Linked DNA regions of Homo sapiens. The protein of the gene in region 1 interacts with the protein of each later gene in a biochemical or structural test. Each region holds a gene or a part of one and is shown in the gene's direction. Other genes may lie near its edges.

Region 1 (7,202 bases):
GGTGCCCTCACAAGCTCTTTCTCCAGTCACTGGCACTCTCTCTCTCCCTCAAAGAAACCCACCCCTCCCGCCTTAGCGCCCTAGCTGGATGTTCCCCAGCCTCCTCCCACCTGGTGACCGCATTTCACCCTTCAGCCCTCAGCTTCCATCTCCTGCTTTGGCCCATTCTGTACCCATCACGGGCCTCTCTGCATGTCCAACTCTCTTCCCTTCGCTTCATGCTCTCTCCCTGTTCCTCTCTGCCTGCCTTTGGGATCCCAGGGCACCTGAGTTTCCTCCTCTGTGGCAATGGGACTGAGGCACAGGACTTGAGTCCTTAGACTGTGATTAAGCACAGATACCACCTGGAAGTCTGGATTCAGATCCTGATCCTGCTTTCATCACCAACTGAGAAGTCACATGACTACTCAGAGCTTCAGCTTCCCCATCTGTAAGATGCTGGGAAGAATGTCGACTTTATAGGGCTGCTGGGAGAATTCACTGAGAATACGGACATGCAGACCACAGTATTGGACACTGCAGGCTCCCAGCAAATGTTCCTTTCCTTTTCTCTAAGTAAGGTGGGAAACTCGTGCATATCTAGGATCGCATTGCCCAATGTTCATGTGTGACATGGGCAAGTGCATCTACATAAATGTGGGCTTGGGATTGAGAAGATTTGGATCAACAGCTGGTGGCACCACTGACCAGCCAAATAGTGTCAGAAACTCCATGAGCCTCAGAGTCTGTGTCTATGAATATGGTAATAATGTTAATACCTTCCAGGGTTGCTTTAAGGACTACGTAAGTTAATATATGAAAGTATTTTGTAATCCTTGGAGTTTAAAAATTGTCATAACCCAGCACTTGTGATTATCTTGCTTTCTCAGCACTCACTTGGGTGAGCTTTGCCTTGCAGCAGGTCTTTTAGTGCCTTCGTCCAGCCCCTTGGTGGTGTTGAGCACAGAGATGACATTTGATAAGAGTTTTCTGGCGCCATGAGAGCGACAGACACAGAGCTGTGCCAGACACCTCAGGGGAGGACCTGCTGCCCAACTGTAGGGGTGGTCTGCTGCCTCCCCCAGCTGTCAGCCCCTCCGGTTTGGCCTCACACCTTCCCGGAAGCAGCTTGCTTCTGGTGACTGAGCTGGGTGGGGCGTGAGGGCTGAGGTTGTTGGAGCTGCCTGGCAGCTCTCTTCTCTCCCTCCCCTCCCATCCCTCCCTCCGCAGGCCTGCCCCCAGGAGGCTTCCCCACAGCATCCTGCATGGTGAACTCTTCAGAGCCTGTGACTCAGAGAACCCAGGCCGAGACATCCAGTGTCCAGCTAGATTTGACCCTTGCAAGCCTTCACAGATATGACTCCACGGGTTGTCTCTGTGCACTCGAATTGAGAATCCTCTCTGTTGTCATTGTTCAAGAAATAAAACACCTGGGTTGTTGCATGTTATGCTGGTCTTTGACAGGGAAAGGAACATTCCTTCCTGGGTGGCTCATGTCATCGTGTGTGTTCAGCATTGTCATTAGGCTGCTGTTTGGGAGAAAGTTTCCAATGACAGGAACAGTTGAAGAGCTTAGTCTCTATTCTCTTAACTCTATTAACCTTAATTCAATTATTTTCCTGCAAGAAACCGAGAATTCCTACATCACCTAAGGTGTTTCAGAATATAAAAATAATCAAAATATTTCCCCAGTTTATTAAACAAAGTTAGGGTAACTTATATACCAAAATCTGATAAAGACAGTATGAAGACAGGAACACTGCACATCAAATCCAGCAGCATTTTAAAAGAATAATGCCCGGTGGCACCAGGGCTCTCAGGGAGGCTGCGTCCTGCCGGGGAAAGTGCTTGGGCTCTGAGTCAGTCGGGGCTCAGCTCTCTAGCGCTGGAAGCTGGAGCTTGCTAAGTCACCTCTCCCAGCACCGGCTCCTTCCATTGCGAGAGGAGAAACCCACTTCTAGGGTTTCGTAAAGGTTGAGGAAGGTAATTCCTGTGCAGCACTCAGGGTCACCCCTGCACATAGGGCCCCTGGGCCAGCCGCCCTCACCACTGTGGGAGGCCGCCTGCTGTGGTCCAGCTGCTCATCTTGCACAGAGCCCTCCATTTTGAGCACTTTCCTGGGACACCAGGACCTTTTGCAGAGCCCTCTCTGATCTGATCTTGGATGTGAGGACTATATGTGGGAGTGCTTGACCCTGCTGATGTTTTCAACACACGGAAATGGGTTCCCTCCCTCACACCACATTCCCAATATGTATTCTCAACATTCAGAACCTCCTTCTAGAATTCCACCCTGTGGCTCCCAGCACGGCTTGGGACTCCAGTGGCGTGAGGCCAGCCAGACTGTGGTCCCCACACTTGAAATACTGGAAGGTTGTGATCATCTGCAAAGCCCAAGGAAAGCTCTGGTAGTGATATGGCCCCGTGCATCCTGCCCTGGCTTGCAGGGCAGTGGCACTTCTGCTTATTGTGAGTATAATGATTCTTTTGGGGGTTGAAGGTCAGTTTTAGGTGTCAGAGAAGGAGTGGGGTCCAGAAACTATTGCGAAAGGCCAGGATATTTGGTGAGAGGACATCCTTTGTTCTTTTTTGCTGGAGTAAGGAAAGCCTGTGTGGTTGATAAAGCCTGGCATGGCATGTGTAGTCCTGGAGGAGGGGTGAGAGCCTTGGGCAAAGAGGGGCGTGGTAGGGCCACAGATGAGGGCTCCCAGGCACTGGGCCTCCTTCCCAAAGAACAATCATCAGGACATCCCAGAGACCACTGTCCAGGAGAAACGGGGTGACAAGCCCTCTTTGAGCTCGGGAGCATTTTAATCAGTGCTCAAGAGGAAGAGAAAAGAAACAAAAAGTGCAACCAGCCAGAAAAACAACCAAGCAGCTACCCACCCAACCACCCATCCACCCACCCACTGACCCAACCAACCACTCCCCCACCCAACCACCTATCCATCCACCCACCGACCCAACCAACCAACCAACCAACCACCCACACAACCACCCATCCACCCAACCCACTGACCCAACCAACCAAACCAAGCAACCACCCACCCAACCACCCATCCACCCACCCACTGACCCAACCAACCTAGCAACCACTCACCCAACCACCCATCCATCCACCCACTGACCCAGCCAACCAACCAACCAACCAACCACCCTCCCAACCACCCATCCACCCACCCACTGACCCAACCAACCAACCAAGCAACCACCCACCCAACGACCCACCCACCCACCCACTGACCCAACCAACCAACCAAGCAACCACCCACCACCCACCCACCCACTGACCCAACCAACCAACCAAGCAACCACCCACCTACCCAACCAACCCCCACTTACCCAATCAACCAACCAAGCAACCATCCACTCACCCAACCAACCACCCACCCACCCAAGCAACCAATCAACGAACCAAGCAACCACCCACCTACCCAACCAACTACCCCCCACCCACCCAAGCAAGCGAGCAAGCGAGCAAGCAACCAAGTAACCATCTACTCACTCAACCAAGCAACCACCCACCTACCCAACCAACCAATCAACCAACCAAGCAACCACCCACCTACCCAACCAACCAATCAACCAACCAAGGAACCACCCACCTACCCAATCAACGAACCCCCCACCCAACCAGCCAAGCAACCAAGTAACCATCCACTCACCTAACCAATCAACCAATCAACCAATCAGGCAACCACCCACCTACCCAACTAACTAACCCGTAACCACCCAACCAACCAAGCAAGCAACCACCTGCTCACCCAACCAACCAATCACCAAACAAGCAACCACCCACCCACCCACTCAACCAACCAACTACCCAACCAAGCAACCACTCACCCAACCAACCATTCAACCGACCGACCGACCGACCGACCGACCCACCGACCCGACCGACCAACCAACCAACCAAGCAACCATCCAACCATTCAAGAGTGTGTTCGGGGGGATTTTCGCTCGGGGCTGACGCGGTTCTCTGGCCGCTGTGCCGTGCTGGGCCACTAGGTGGCAGCGGAGGCCGCCCGGAGCGACAGCCGGCGGTGCGGAGGCGGGCCCGGCGCGGGCAGGCAGGAGGCTTAAAGCCCCGCAGAGCCGCAGCCGCCTAGCTGGGGGAGAGGCCCGTCCGGGGCTGGCTCTGAGCGCCGCACGGCCGTCGGATCCCGGGGACGCCGGGGGCCCGGGCTGAGCGCCGCGGCCCGCGAGGAGGAGCACCGGTAAATAGCCACAACTTTCTATCTCCTTGAGATCCTGAGAATAAATGCAAAATCGCGCTTCCGCTGCATGTGGAAGTGAGCGGGGCGGCAGCTAGCTTGCCCCGTGAGTTTTTAACACAGCTCGATATGATGTTTAGTATAATTGCATAATTTACCGATATATCTGAGCTGGAACTCAGCTGTAACAAATGATTGTAGTTCAATAAATGCTTAGATTACCAATTTTTTCCTTTTTTATTTTTATAGATTTAGGGGGTACAGGTGCTGTTTTGTTATATGGATGTATTGCATAGTGGTGGAGACTGGGCTTTTAGTGTAGCCATCACCCCTATAGTGTACATTGTACCTATTAAGTAATTTGTTGTCCCTCACCCCCTCCCTCCCTCCCAAAGTGATTACAAATATTAATGATGACAGTGATGACAGAAATTCTCTCCAGATGTGATCTGAGTTTGGAGGGCAAAGGGATTTTTGAAAATGAATCATAAGAGAGAAATTTTGCAACAAAGGAGTGTGGTACATTTAAATTGCTGTTTTTTTTTTTAAATACTGTGCTCACGCGGACCTAATAAACTATCAAGCAGACCTCATGGAATTCCACATAATGCAGAAGCGAGGGAAAAATAGGTATTGAGGGAAAAGCAGCACTGTTTTCCTCAATTTTAACACGTATGTGCAGCCTACACTTACAAACTTAAGACAGTAGCTTTTAACATGTGACTTTGCTCAGGGTAACAGACCATTCTGGTTATAGCCTTACTTACAGCTGTGGAGGCTGAATCCTGATGGGTCTAAGAAGTGTCAGGACAAGTGTTAGGGATGCACCTGTCTGTCTGTCTTAAGGGAATACGGGTCTGGGCAGTCTTAAATCGGAGCTCCCTTGAGGAGAATGTCGTGCAGTAGCCTTAGGAATGTGAACATTGGGAGACTGGCTGGGATTTTGTAGGTTATGAGTTGGGGACACTTATGATAGTGAACTTGAGCCCAGGAGAGAAGCCATAAAAAGTGAAACTGTCCTGGGCACTTGGAGGTGAGTGTCTCTCTAGTAAGATGCATGTGAAAGGCTGGGAGCTGAAAGCAAGGAGAGCAGAAGAGGCTGGTGAAGATTCTAATCTGCGTGTCCAGGGGCACTCTTCCAGGTCTCAGGAACGCAGGTCAGAATGTGCAAGCCAGCTGCCGGGCACGTGGCTCACCCCTGTAGTACCAGCACTTTGGGAGGCTGAGAGAGAAGATCGCTTGTGGCCAGGAGTTTGAGACCAGACTGGGCAACATAGGGAGACCCTGTCTCTTAAAAAAAAAAAAAAAAAAGGACTGAGTGAGCCGAGCCCAGTCCTCTGATGCACTGTGTCATTCATCCCCTTTCTTAGGCTGTGTTGGTTCTAGGCTAGCTGCTGTCTTTCTTTGGTAGGCTGCTAACCTCTTTGGATTGTGAATTTAAAACATGTTTTACAGTAAATTTGCTGCCAAGACAAGAGGTGTATTTCTCCAGCAATGAATTCCTCATTTCACCTGCATTTCTTGGATCTCAACCTGAATGCCACAGAGGGCAACCTTTCAGGACCCAATGTCAAAAACAAGTCTTCACCATGTGAAGACATGGGCATTGCTGTGGAGGTGTTTCTCACTCTGGGTGTCATCAGCCTCTTGGAGAACATCTTGGTCATAGGGGCCATAGTGAAGAACAAAAACCTGCACTCCCCCATGTACTTCTTCGTGTGCAGCCTGGCAGTGGCGGACATGCTGGTGAGCATGTCCAGTGCCTGGGAGACCATCACCATCTACCTACTCAACAACAAGCACCTAGTGATAGCAGACGCCTTTGTGCGCCACATTGACAATGTGTTTGACTCCATGATCTGCATTTCCGTGGTGGCATCCATGTGCAGCTTACTGGCCATTGCAGTGGATAGGTACGTCACCATCTTCTACGCCCTGCGCTACCACCACATCATGACGGCGAGGCGCTCAGGGGCCATCATCGCCGGCATCTGGGCTTTCTGCACGGGCTGCGGCATTGTCTTCATCCTGTACTCAGAATCCACCTACGTCATCCTGTGCCTCATCTCCATGTTCTTCGCTATGCTGTTCCTCCTGGTGTCTCTGTACATACACATGTTCCTCCTGGCGCGGACTCACGTCAAGCGGATCGCGGCTCTGCCCGGGGCCAGCTCTGCGCGGCAGAGGACCAGCATGCAGGGCGCGGTCACCGTCACCATGCTGCTGGGCGTGTTTACCGTGTGCTGGGCCCCGTTCTTCCTTCATCTCACTTTAATGCTTTCTTGCCCTCAGAACCTCTACTGCTCTCGCTTCATGTCTCACTTCAATATGTACCTCATACTCATCATGTGTAATTCCGTGATGGACCCTCTCATATATGCCTTCCGCAGCCAAGAGATGCGGAAGACCTTTAAGGAGATTATTTGCTGCCGTGGTTTCAGGATCGCCTGCAGCTTTCCCAGAAGGGATTAAGCACAAAGTGCTCCTCTCTGTGGCTCTGTTCTCCTTTGTTTGCTCACCTATGACAAAGCGACAGCCAAGGGGTAGGCGGGAGTGCTAGCATCCCATTTTTCTCTTTACCAGCTCAGACATGGGCCTAAGAGGCTCTCTCTGTTCAGTTCCTGGTGATTATGTCCAACATGCAAGGGTTGCTTATCCACTCTGGGGACAGTCATGACAATTTCTTACTGTCCTTTTGTGTCCTATGGTTTCTACTGCTCCCACCCATTTCTGGGGGCCCCATCCACCCTCCACCTAGCAGGCATGTGCTCGGGGAATGCACAGCACCCTCAGTGCAAGCCAGACATGATGAAACACGTATTGTGACGCGAAGAAAACCGTGATATCGACGCCAGGTGGGATTGCTTCTTCTCCCCAGAAGCAGGTCCACACTCTGCTGGCTGCACTCTGAGCTATGCATGCTTTTCAGGGAAGAAAAGAGTGGCCAGATTCTTTCCATCAGAAGCAATCTGTTCATTTGTTCTGAAATGTCTTCTTTGCTCCCCTTGC
Region 2 (5,508 bases), on another chromosome or scaffold:
GATCTCCGGCCTCGAGGTGGCTTCAGGGGGCCCACCTGGTTAAGGGAAATTTGGCAGTGCGAGGGTAGTGCTGGAGAGAGGGGTGGGTACAGGGGGCTAGGGGCACCATGGATGCCCCCTCCTTACTGTCCCCTGGTGTCTTGACCTCAGCTTCTGCCCACAGGCACTTGCTGGATTCTCCAAAAGTATCTGCAGTGGCTGTTCCACCAGGAGGTAATTCCCTTCTGGTCTCTTTCCCCTCCACATCTGCATCCTCTTCAAATCCTGCCATTTCAGACCACATTTGAGAGCTCTAGAGAACAAGACATCTGACACGTGACGTGTCCAGAAGATGAGCCAGATTTCAAAGAACTGAGATCTGCTTTAAAAACGAAGCTCTCCAAAGTTACTGGAGTCTGGGTAATAGTGATCACCAGAGTAATTTGTGTGCAGGACATCAAATCAGGCTGCTCGAAATGCTGCCTAAATTGGCCAGTGGTTTTATTTGCTTTTCTGTCAACCTAATATTCATAGGAAATAGAGTTTCAGAGGAATGATAGGATCCTGGTGGAATAAAAAGGGAAAAGACCATCTTGAGCAGGAGTTTCAGGGTCCTCCGTTTTTCCCAAGTTACTTTCACTCCTGAGATCTTGCATGTTAGAACTACAGCTTAATGTAGTGAAATAGGAAAGTTCTCTGTTAGGAGCTTAGCCTTACCTTGTCATGGACATTAAAGTAATTGTCTCTCTTTGGGCTTCAATTTTCCCATCTCTCATGGGAAGGGCTGAACCAAGCAATCCCCAAAATAGCTTCCAGCCTTAACCTTTTTAGGGGTCTCGTTTAAATAGAAGATAACAGGGAAATGGTCACAGTTTACCCACCATTCCCTCCTCCTTATCACAACTTATACCACCGCTGTACTGCACACCTCCTTTCTCAGCATTGCTGCTGTCCTTAAAATGCCTTTAACTCCACAAGAGAGTGTGTTGTTAATGTTGGCTCAAGGTCCTTCCTGGTGAGTGGCCAACATTGTTTTGCTCCTTGCAGGGGTCCCACCAATCTTGTTTGCTTCTGCAGAGCCTCAGCCTGCCTGGAAGATGCCGAGATCGTGCTGCAGCCGCTCGGGGGCCCTGTTGCTGGCCTTGCTGCTTCAGGCCTCCATGGAAGTGCGTGGCTGGTGCCTGGAGAGCAGCCAGTGTCAGGACCTCACCACGGAAAGCAACCTGCTGGTACGTGGGCCATGACTGCCATCTTGGCTTAGACATTAGATGGGACTGGAGCTGGGAAAGCTCAAAAGAAAAGGGTGTGGGGAAAGGGAAATTCATTCCCAGTGATAGGCGTGATTCAATCCAGGGCAGGAGCAAAACTTTGCAGTGAAGTAAGAAATGGGAGAAGAAATCAGGGAAGGAAGCAGCTTCAGGGAGAGGGGTTGAGTCCACAATTTCTGCTTGGTTATCCTTACTTCTTGCCCCATCTTTTATGGAGACCTTGAACCCTTTAAGCTAGAGATGGTGCTATAAGAGCAATAATGGACCCCTCAATCTATTCTGTACTTTAAATCTTTAGCTTCCCAAACTATTCCTTTTTAAGAAGCTCATATCACTTGCCATTTTCATTCCATATTTCTTACCCTTTTATCTACTACCGGTTGCAAAACCAGCCAGGTAGTTCTTCAAATCATCTCTGGAAGAAGGAAAAACCAGGGGCCCTTTTTTTTTTTTCTTTAATTGGTGCCAAATGTCTCATGTTTATTCTGGAGGACTGGCCTTCTGCTGTGTTCCTCTACAGTCTTTCCAGAGCATGTGAAGGCCCTTTGCATCAGGCAGGAGCTCCCTCCAGGTCACCACAGGGTGTATGTATCTGCCTGTGGGGGGTGTGTGTGTGTGTGTGTTGGGGGGCATAAATGAGTAATGATGCCAAATCCAGAGATTAAAAGGCACACTGAGACCAGGCGAGATGGCTCATGGCTGTAATCCCAGCACTTTTAGATGCTAAGGTGGGAGGATTGCTTGAGCCCAGGGATTCAAGACAAGCCTGGGCAACATAGTGAGACCTCCACTTCTACAAAAAATAAAAAAGTTAGCCAGATGTGGTGGCATGTGCCTGTAGTCCTAGCTACTTGGGAGGTTCACTTGAGGCCAGGAGTCTGACGACACAGTAAGCTATGATCACACCATTGCACTCCAGTCTGGGTAACAGAATGAGACCTTGTCTCAAAACAAAACAAAATGAAACAAACAAACAAACAAACCCCCATACTGTTAGTGTCAGTGACCGGAATTTTAATCTTGTTGCCATCACCTGGCAGGTGCTGAGGGTGGAATGTACATAACTACATTCTGTGTATTTTGTCAATGCAGAAGCTGAGTTAAGGTGAAGATAGAATGAGGTCCTCAAAGACACAGACCAGTTTTCATGTGTAATATAAAATAGAAACAAAGAGCCCAGGGGATTCTGTGAGTTCCAGTTTGGAAAGACCCAAGAGTCTCTTGACTTGAGACACCCACAGCACAGCTCACCAGGGAGGGTGCACTGGACACAGTCAGGACCCATGGGTTCTAGACCCAGTTTTGAGGTGTGGGACCTTGACCAGGTCCTATCACCTCTCTGAGTCTCCTGTTTCACTATCTGTCCACGGGAGGGGAGTGTAAATTAGTTTTTTCCATTGTTAACGTTCCACAGAGTTGTAATTCTGAACACCTGGAGTAGGCAATGTCCAGCTCAACAGAGTGGGTAGGATCCTTTTATTTTCTCCTTTGCTATTCCCAAGAAAGAGAGCAGCCAGTGAGCTTTTCATCTTTTTATCACTGAAAACTCAAGGCTGCAGCCTATGCAGCCATTTTCCTAAGCTAATATGTACCACAATAGAGTCCTCTAGGGACAAGGAGCAGAGACACAGGTTCCACAGACGGTGCAATGGAAATAACGCTAGCTTTCCACCCCTCCCTCCAGTCAGAATGAGATTACAGGGAAATAAGCTTGCCCCAGAGCTCACTGGGGGATCTCTCAGAAATCAGCTCAGAAGTCGTGAAAGAACCAAGGTGCAGTTTTGGAGGCTTAGTGCAGAGATGGAGCTGGGGTAGGGCATAAAGTAGGTTTTTCATCACTGAGGTAAGGTTGAGGCATTATTTTTTATTTTTTGTTTATTTATTTATTTTTTTGAGACGGAGTCTCGCTCTATCACCCAGGCTGGAGTGCAGTGGCGCGATCTCCCCTCACTGCAAGCTCCACCTCCCAGGTTCACACAGGTTGAGGCATTATTAAAAATATGTTTAAAAATATGGGCCCTAGTAGCCAGACTTCTATCACCTGGAGAGATTATCCCCCAAATTTCAGCCCCACTCCCCTCCTGGACTTGAATTAAACCATATGTATTTATTCAATATTCTTTTTATTTATTTATTTATTTTTTTGAGACGGAGTCTTGCTCTGTTGCCCTGGCTGGAGTGTGGAGTGCAGTGGTGTGATCTTGGCTCACTGCAACCTCTACCTCCCAGGTTCAAGCGGTTCTCCTGCCTCAGGCTCCAGAGTAGCTGGGATTACAGGCGCCCGCCACCACACCCAGCTTATTTATTTATTTATACTAGAGATGGTATTTCACCATAGTTGGCCAGGCTGGTCTTGAACTCCTGACCTCATGTGATCTGCCTGCCTTGGCCTCCCAAAGTGCTGGGATTATAGGTGTGAGCCACCGTGCCCGGCCCTCAATATTCATTAAGTGCCAACAACTACCACCCGTCTGCCTTTCTTGGAGCCACTCCTTTATGTCAGGCATATAACAGTAAGACTTTGGTCCTGTTCACAAAAGCTAGGGGTGGCTAGATGGCTAGACAAACCATGGAATGGGATGGGAAGTGTGTTGCAGTTGCCAGGCAGAAGCATGAAGGGGATGGGACAAAAGAGGCAGTGGCAAGATCTTAGATGCCCACGAGTGCCAAGAAAGCAGGTGGGCAGACCTGCTCTGTAGGGAGGCCTCGACGCTTGACACGCCCGACACTGTGCCCTGTGTCCTCGGCACGTGGCGAGGGCGGCCAGGGCCTAGGCGCAGTGACGGGCGCGGCAGCCGGGCCGGGGTGCGGGGCACGGGCTGCCCTCATGCCCTCGCGTCTTCCCCCAGGAGTGCATCCGGGCCTGCAAGCCCGACCTCTCGGCCGAGACTCCCATGTTCCCGGGAAATGGCGACGAGCAGCCTCTGACCGAGAACCCCCGGAAGTACGTCATGGGCCACTTCCGCTGGGACCGATTCGGCCGCCGCAACAGCAGCAGCAGCGGCAGCAGCGGCGCAGGGCAGAAGCGCGAGGACGTCTCAGCGGGCGAAGACTGCGGCCCGCTGCCTGAGGGCGGCCCCGAGCCCCGCAGCGATGGTGCCAAGCCGGGCCCGCGCGAGGGCAAGCGCTCCTACTCCATGGAGCACTTCCGCTGGGGCAAGCCGGTGGGCAAGAAGCGGCGCCCAGTGAAGGTGTACCCTAACGGCGCCGAGGACGAGTCGGCCGAGGCCTTCCCCCTGGAGTTCAAGAGGGAGCTGACTGGCCAGCGACTCCGGGAGGGAGATGGCCCCGACGGCCCTGCCGATGACGGCGCAGGGGCCCAGGCCGACCTGGAGCACAGCCTGCTGGTGGCGGCCGAGAAGAAGGACGAGGGCCCCTACAGGATGGAGCACTTCCGCTGGGGCAGCCCGCCCAAGGACAAGCGCTACGGCGGTTTCATGACCTCCGAGAAGAGCCAGACGCCCCTGGTGACGCTGTTCAAAAACGCCATCATCAAGAACGCCTACAAGAAGGGCGAGTGAGGGCACAGCGGGGCCCCAGGGCTACCCTCCCCCAGGAGGTCGACCCCAAAGCCCCTTGCTCTCCCCTGCCCTGCTGCCGCCTCCCAGCCTGGGGGGTCGTGGCAGATAATCAGCCTCTTAAAGCTGCCTGTAGTTAGGAAATAAAACCTTTCAAATTTCACATCCACCTCTGACTTTGAATGTAAACTGTGTGAATAAAGTAAAAATACGTAGCCGTCAAATAACAGCAGCATGGATCGGAGGAGCACAGTGGTTTCCATGCGGTAGGATATTTCACAGGACTTAGTGAGCGTGAAAGGAAAATGTGCTTCCTGCCCCCACCCCCAAATGGATCTTCGAGGGATCAGATAGTTTGGGTGAAGGCACAGGGTGGCTCCAGCACCTCTAGGATGGCCGTATTTTCCACACACTCCACTGAGTGGGAGACTGCTCAGCTAGCACACGTGTAAAGGCAGGATTCCTGCAAGAGTGACCCCGGGCGCTCAGGGGCTCCCCGGCTCCGGTCCACCTCCAAAAGCCAGTTGGACAGGTTGAGGCCTACCCACGCCTGGGAGTGCTCTGGACTGTCAGGTGAGAAGTCTTGGTAATGTCTCCGGGGAACTGCTCGTAGCAATCCATGGGACCTTAGGCAAGTCTCTGAACTTCTCCAAAATTTAGTTCTTTCATCTACCCCTCCCTTCCCAGTATGAGGGTTATTGTGAAGATTAAAGGAGAAAATGGACATAATCTTCTTTTTATCA

What was found.
Region 2: the proteins of MC5R (region 1) and POMC form a complex in vitro, tested with the Homo sapiens proteins (one study listed by BioGRID).

What each region holds. Positions count from the first base shown.
Region 1 is NC_000018.10:13,820,079-13,827,280, forward strand, and holds the start of MC5R (melanocortin receptor 5), read left to right. Parts: upstream 1-4,070; 5' UTR 4,071-4,196; intron 4,197-5,648; 5' UTR 5,649-5,687; coding exon 5,688-6,665; 3' UTR 6,666-7,202. UniProt on the Homo sapiens protein: Receptor for MSH (alpha, beta and gamma) and ACTH. The activity of this receptor is mediated by G proteins which activate adenylate cyclase. This receptor is a possible mediator of the immunomodulation properties of melanocortins.
Region 2 is NC_000002.12:25,160,341-25,165,848, reverse strand, and holds the end of POMC (pro-opiomelanocortin preproprotein), read left to right. Parts: intron 1-163; exon of another isoform or gene 164-213; intron 214-1,026; exon of another isoform or gene 1,027-1,056; 5' UTR 1,057-1,076; coding exon 1,077-1,208; intron 1,209-4,096; coding exon 4,097-4,768; 3' UTR 4,769-4,989; downstream 4,990-5,508.